2 separate regions of the Homo sapiens genome follow, and region 2 is reported to be linked to region 1. Evidence: microRNA targets listed by miRTarBase, many of them from high-throughput screens and not tested one by one. Region 1 holds a microRNA gene; the other region holds the end of a gene's coding sequence.

Region 1 (3,414 bases):
TTCTTACCCAAGGAAGGAGAAGATTCAACGCCTATGAAGTGTATATGCCAGTAGCTGGCATATAGTAACAAATATTTACAGGTTAGAAAAGTGAGCTGACACTAGCACGCTAAAAATATATTTCACATCTATCAAAATATACTTTTAGTTTAATTTATCCAATCTACCATAGATAATACACAATAGATATCTGACTTTATATCTGTGACAATATTCAATCATTTTAAAAGGGGGTAGGGGGCAGATATATTGCTTTAGAAGTACTCCTACCATTCTAAAAATACTGTCCCGCAGCTGTTTAAAATTTATTTTTTTAGACCATAGCACCACTGTTTGGTTGTTTCCAATTTCTAAAACCACAAATAGTAAAAGTGTACTCAGTCTACTGCAAACATAAATAGCAAATGCACGCTTCAGCACTTTTTAAAGGATATGGAAATTGGCAACAAAAATGCAGTTCATGTTGAAAATTTACGACAGCCCTGCCATATTTCTTCAGAAATACAATCAGGTAAAAATTAGGAAGATCTCTACCAGCTGGGTGGTATTTTTGTGTTTTTATACTTATATTTTCACTAACTGAAAGACTTTCATTATGCAATTTCTGGCACTTGATAAAATAGAGCAATAGTACCTTTGCTAAAACCACAGTTTCTTTGGTTATGTTTAGCATTACACAAACATCTTTCACCTTAGATATCCTTTTGCATTAGAGTGTTTAATTTTAAATTGACTGAAGGGAATAACTTTTTTCAGAATATTATGCTTTCTGGATATCACTAAGCACAAGAATTGTATTTTCATGATTTCTCAAAGATCATGTGTATGTGTTTCAATTATTAGGCATTTGGTTCCATAAAAAGTGTGACAACTACTGATAAAAGATGAGAATACAAAAATGATTCAAGAAAACATGGAGAAGATTGACTTACAGTGTTGCTATATTATTTTTTTAAAACCCTGTCTTTATAAAATACGTAAAAAGCCACAACATGGATTTACCATCTCTTCCTTGGTAAAGATACATCTAAAATAACACATCCTCAGCTTCTGAGGAGAAGAAAAAAAAATCCCTGGTACAAAAGGTTAACATAAAAAATAGTATGCTAAATTCAACAGTGGAGGAAGAAGTTTCGTTTTAAGACATAATTCTTCAATACTCATTTCTCATTTTAATATTAAAATTGCTACTACATATTTAAATTGGTTTTAAGTATCAGAAATAGGAATAAAGATTATTTTTTAATATTTTGATGCATCCAATAAAATTGTGTTCAATTAACACTGAATGAACAAATAATCAAGTAAATGGAGAGAAAATGTCACTTGATCATTTCAGATTTTTTCATGAAATTTTTAAAATAAATGACTCAAAAACTCATGAACAATAGTTCATACTATGATCTAATAACTTAAATGATTTGAAAGAAAAATAAATCTACCAAGGAATTTTTAAGTGGCTCCTGTTTTACATGGTGTTTCTTCTTTACATACATTGTTACTAAGTGCATTTAACCAATAAACATTTTTCAAAGATCAGTTAAATTATGCTATTTGGTTGGATGAATACTTCATATATCCTCTATAATACATGCTTTTTAAAACTAATTAAAAAATAAGAATTCAAATTGAAATATGCAATGTAACAAAATTAAGGTAAACTATGAGAAAGACAAAAGTTTTGTGGTATTTGCAGAAAAAAATTGACAATACTATTTTTTCATTTACATAAAATAAGAAGATAAAGAGTGAAAAACCATTATGCATTGTATTTTTAGGGCCCACATGTATTGGGACCTAAAAATACAATGCATAATGGTTTTACCCCATGTCTTTTAATAAGAATTTGACTTTGTTAGATAATTGCTTTTCTTTGAATTTACAAAGTGTAAAGTGAGTCTAACTGCCATATTAATCACCAAAAAAACCCAAATTACATACAACGTAAGAAACTTAAAGCTGTATTTCTCATCTGCAATTAGCATCTATTCAGACTGTAAACTTACAAAAGCATTCAGATTTCTTCTTACTCTGAATACTGTTTAATAACCCAAACTTGATAATGTTCCATCACTGCATTTCTAGAAATAAAAAAATCTCTCAAAGTTCTCAACTTATCTTTTGGTCTGCTGAACAAGATATTATCTGAAATGTTATATGCTTTGAATACCCATTTTTACTTTAAAATGATACTTAATCATATCTTCTTAAGAGCTGGTCTAATCAATATGAAAGCCAGGCAGGAACAAAAAAATATTTTAAAAATAGCTTTTCAAAATAGGAATACATATTCTAGTGATGCAGTTTTCTGATTTGAAACAGGATCACTTTTACAAATACTGAGTGTCATTTTGTATTCAACAGCAGCAGAAAAAAAAGGTATAAATGTCTACCTCATTTGCTATAATGTAAGTTCTTAGATGGAAATACTGAATTAAACACTGGTGGCTTATGGAACACACAAGCCTTGCAATTTAAAACTAGAAACCTTCCTCCTAATACTTTGTTATATCTTTAGGTTAAAATATTTGTTTTCTTAATTAACCATAAGAAAACAAAGAAAAAGAAAAGAATCAGTCCCAATACATTAATTTGCTGAAATTTTCACTTGTGAAAACAAATCAAGTTTCAGAACTTGGGAATAGCATATAACAATGAATCAATGTCTCATCTGTAACAACGACACAGTTAAAATAACTTCTTGATATAAGTTAATTTTTAAGAAAATTAGTTTGATCCAGGGTTATTTATAACAGGTAACATGAGTGGTTTTTGACTAAGCTGCTATATCTTTCCTTGAGTTACTCTGAGTTAAGTCACACTACCTGAAGTTACATTTGGAACACCAACATCTTAATTATTATCATGAAATAGCTACCTATTATTTTTAAGTAAATGTACTAACTTCTAATCATATCTGTTATTTTAAGCTTTGAATAATATGAAACTAAATCATGTAATTAAGGATATAGAAAAATGCAACAGAATAGCTTTATAACAGACCAATTACAACACTTTATTTCCCATACTGTTACTTAACAAATATCTGTGCTATTTTATAACATTTTAAAATCTTAAGACTAGAAATAATTACATCTTTTACTAGTGCTTATAAGGGCTGTTGTCATCTTTAAAGACACAACATCTTTAAAATTAGAAATGCATACAATTTTATATTTCAAAATGTATTAACTCAAAGACAATAAAATACACCTATTTCTTAAGATCTATTTTAAAATACTGTTGTTGCATTGGATTAAATGTATATATGTGATTAATGAATGCTTCCAATATAAAGATTTAAGTCTATTTTTCCTTGCCAGAAAAAAACAACTCAGCTTAATTTTTAACTATTTTATTATACCCTTCAGAACTTAAAATTATATACAAATAATGTAACCTGAGACCTGCTCT
Region 2 (3,414 bases), not on the chromosome of region 1:
AAGGGCAGAACTTCAGAAGTTCTCAGATCATAAGCGCCTTCAACTCCTAGATCCTGTCTTTCAAAATGCAGCCGTTATGTTGGCAGATAACATTTATCAATTAGTGCGTTGTAGGCACTGGTGTGAAAATACTTTTCATGGAGTGTCCAGTAAGATGTTCACAACGTTTAGAGGCAGATTGTACCATTGCCATTTCATAAAAAAATTAATGTTCAGAGAGGTGCTATAACTTCTCCAAGGTCACACAGTTATTCAGTGACAGAGCCAGGACTCAGCCTGTAGCTCCCAAACTCCAAGTCCAAATCTCTTTCTTTCCCCTGGGCTGCTTAGGGTATCATGATGCAGGAAGGGATGGGGCCCTTGGGAGGATTCTCTACCGTCCAAGGGATAGTCTTTGACTGCCAATTAATGTCTGCCTTTCATGTCCCACTTTTATCCCTCTAGGTTCTGAAGCTGCTGCTCGTGGCCTGGGATCGCCGCCTCATTTTTGCCATTGGCACCTCCAGCACCACAGGCGAGTCAGACACCGTCATCTGGAATGAGGTCCACCACAAGACAGAGTTTGGCTCTAATCTCACTGGCCATGGCTACCCAGATGCCAATTACCTGGATAATGTGCTGGCTGAACTGGCTGCCCAGGGCATCTCTGAGGACAGCACTGCCCAGGAGAAGGACTGAGGCCAGAAAAGCTTTGAGGTGGGAGGGGCCATGGAGACTGCAGGACAGGAAGTGAGGAGAGTGAGTCAATGTAGAAGAAGTTGGTGTCCTGCCCTCCCAACTTTCTATCCTCCCCTCCTGCCCTGTGTCCATCCCTCATCCCTCCCAACCACAGTGGGAGCCAGACTGAATATAGCGACATCATTCATAAATCTCATCCAACACAAAGGGAGATGGGATGAGGGCCATCCTGGGTCTGTTCCCATGGAGTTTTTGGTGCTGGGTAGGCAGGAATCCCCTCCCTACCCCACCTCCCAAGTAGGGGCATGGTCAGCACACCTAGGGTATGGGCAGTGCTTAGGCACTCCATATCCTGGCTTTGGGAAGCCGGGGTTTCTTGCCTCAGCCGGCTTCTTGCTACTTCCACTCTGCTTTGAGACTGGAGTTTCTGCTATTCTCCCTCTGCTGGAGGCAGGGAGCTCTCACTGTGCAAGGTTGGGGGGTGGGCAAAGGGGTGAATCACTAAACTGCTGTGACATCAGAAACTGATGCCTTGGTGTAGAGCAAGGAAGCACTTCTTCCCAAGAGGGTCGGAGAAGGAAAAGCCTCTGGGAGCACATTCTGCTGTCATCACAGTCCTTGGCTTCTCTGGGCCCTCCTCTCCTCCTCACAGCTCTCACCTGTCCAAAGAGGCATCTGGTTCTCTCATGTGGATGGATGGACTCTGGGGTTCCTCTTTGGAGTGGCATCCCATGATGCTGTTTCTAGACCCTCTCTGATCAAACCAGAGCCTGCATCCCACTGAGCATCTGAACTGTCCTCAGGGAGAGGAGCCCACAGCCTTCTTCCCAACTCATTCTAGACCAGCTCAAAGATTCCATGAGTTTCATCGAGTCACTGTGAGTGGAGCCCATGCTGGGCTCTGTGCCCTCTGTGTCTGTGCATGCGCGTGTGTGTGTGGGCGTGTGTGCATTGCTGGGCCAGCTTGAAGGGAAGGCCCGTCATGTCCCTGCACTCTGTTTTGCAAGATGCCAAACCCCAGTTCTGATGGGGCTCCAACAGCCAGGCTGTGGTCCTTTGACGTTCCTCACCTGTTGCCAACCTATCCCGTAGTGAACTGAAACCCCAATGAAGACAGAACTGTGCCTGGGGAGATGCAATGAGGTGAGGGCTGAACTCATCCTTTTATATTTCTTTTCAAGATTGGATCAGAGCTCATCTCCATCCAGTCTTGTTTCTATGAAGGCTTCAATCTGTTTCCATGCAAATTTGCTAATCAGAGCCCAGAGCTGCTGGGTCCCTCATCTCCCTCATCTATTATAGATTGACTTACAGCAGGGAGAGAATCTCTTTAGCTCATTCCTAATGGAGTTGGGATCACAATATGGTCTGGTCCAATCTGCATCTTGTTGTGTCCCAAGACCCTATCTCCTCCCCAACATTCTTATTGCCTTTGGCTCCCAGTAAGGAACGAATTGGGGGCCAGGGAGGAGAACAGGGGGGATCAAGAAGGGAAACCCAATTCCCCCTTTGAAAGTGGGTTCTTTGAACTATGTGTTTGGGGGAAGTTCCTCTGGATACTAATTTGAATTTATATACCTCATGTTTTGGGGGTTTGACGTATATATATATATATATATATGCATATATATTTCATAATATTTGGAAGGTTTTTGATGCTAGAAAAATGGAAACAAGAGAACCTTCAAAAATGGTACTTAGATGGGAACTGGAGGCCAATCTTTCATAAAGCCAGCCCCATAGCTGCTTGCTGTTAGGCCTCCAGCCATTTTGACATTGGGGTGGATAGTCGATTCACCTGCCTGTCAGTCGATTCACCTGCCTGTCACCCAGTTCTGTGGATGTGCTGGTGCTGAGCCTTTGCTCTCTTTCCAAATGGTTACAGGGATGTTGATCAGCTCCACCAGAGGGAGCTCTGATGGGAGGAATTGCTCTGCCATCCTTGTCCCTGTGTCTCCTGTCGGCAGGCAGCCATTGTATCTCACCAGCAGACCAGGAGACTGGTCCCAAGGTTACTGCACCACAGGGCAATTTCCTGCCATAGTTAGGAAGGAAACACCTGAACTAAATGGAAGAGACATCCCTGCGGTGTTTAATATCACACCCATGCCCTTTGTCAGGTTACCATGTACAGAGATTACTTGGAGAGCCTCATGCCGTCTCTACCTTCGCACACTGGTCAAGTATCTGCTGAGCTTCTTGGCCGCAAGGATGCAGAAATAGGCTGAGGGTCCATGGGAAGAAAGACACAATGAGGCAGTAGGAGGTGGGGAAGAAAAGAAGACAGACTTTCAAAATGGAATTAGGCACTGGGGAGAGATCAGTTTCCCCACATCAGGGAGAAGAAGGTATAGGTGGGGAAGGGGGTGGCCAGGAGCAGAAGGAAGAAGACTCAAGATGGAAAGGGAGCCGCTGTGCCTGTGGCAATACCACTTGGAGAGGTCGACTTCATACCTTCAAGCCTTTTCCCCTGGGCTTTTGATTGTGTCTGTGCCCCCTTTCTTGTCCTCTCTGCAGATGCCCAGTAGGGGCTACCTCATCCTCGTGCTGTTCTTGTGTGGCTTTCTGGGCAGTAGGGATCTTGAATTTCCTTTCTAACACTGTGCCCGGCAAGGCGGGGAGCATTCCTCTGCCCTTTGTCTTGTGCCAACCTGGAAAGGTGCAGTCTAGATTTCAGTGAGAACCCTGCCAGCTGAGCCCTGTGCATCTACTACCTTGACACAGAGTGTTTTCCCA

What was found. Region 1 holds the annotated microRNA hsa-miR-586 (UAUGCAUUGUAUUUUUAGGUCC, at 1,794-1,815, opposite strand). A microRNA usually pairs through its seed, bases 2 to 8, with sites in the 3' UTR of a target mRNA and lowers its output. Matches are read on the target gene's strand: a 7mer-m8 pairs with bases 2 to 8, a 7mer-A1 pairs with bases 2 to 7 and ends in A, and an 8mer does both.
Region 2: the mRNA of DTX4 is a reported target of hsa-miR-586. Seed matches in the 3' UTR shown: 7mer-A1 at 2,298-2,304.

What each region holds. Positions count from the first base shown.
Region 1 is chr6:45,195,941-45,199,354 of GRCh38, forward strand. MIR586 (microRNA 586) reads right to left here and starts at 1,830; the gene lies at 1,734-1,830. All of the region lies in intron 2 of SUPT3H (SPT3 homolog, SAGA and STAGA complex component), which reads right to left.
Region 2 is chr11:59,204,232-59,207,645 of GRCh38, forward strand. It overlaps DTX4 (deltex E3 ubiquitin ligase 4), which reads left to right. Exons shown (of 9, transcript NM_015177.2): 9 at 445-3,414. The coding sequence ends at 678. Among named protein-coding and RNA genes, the nearest start is that of MPEG1, 7.0 kb to the right of the region's middle.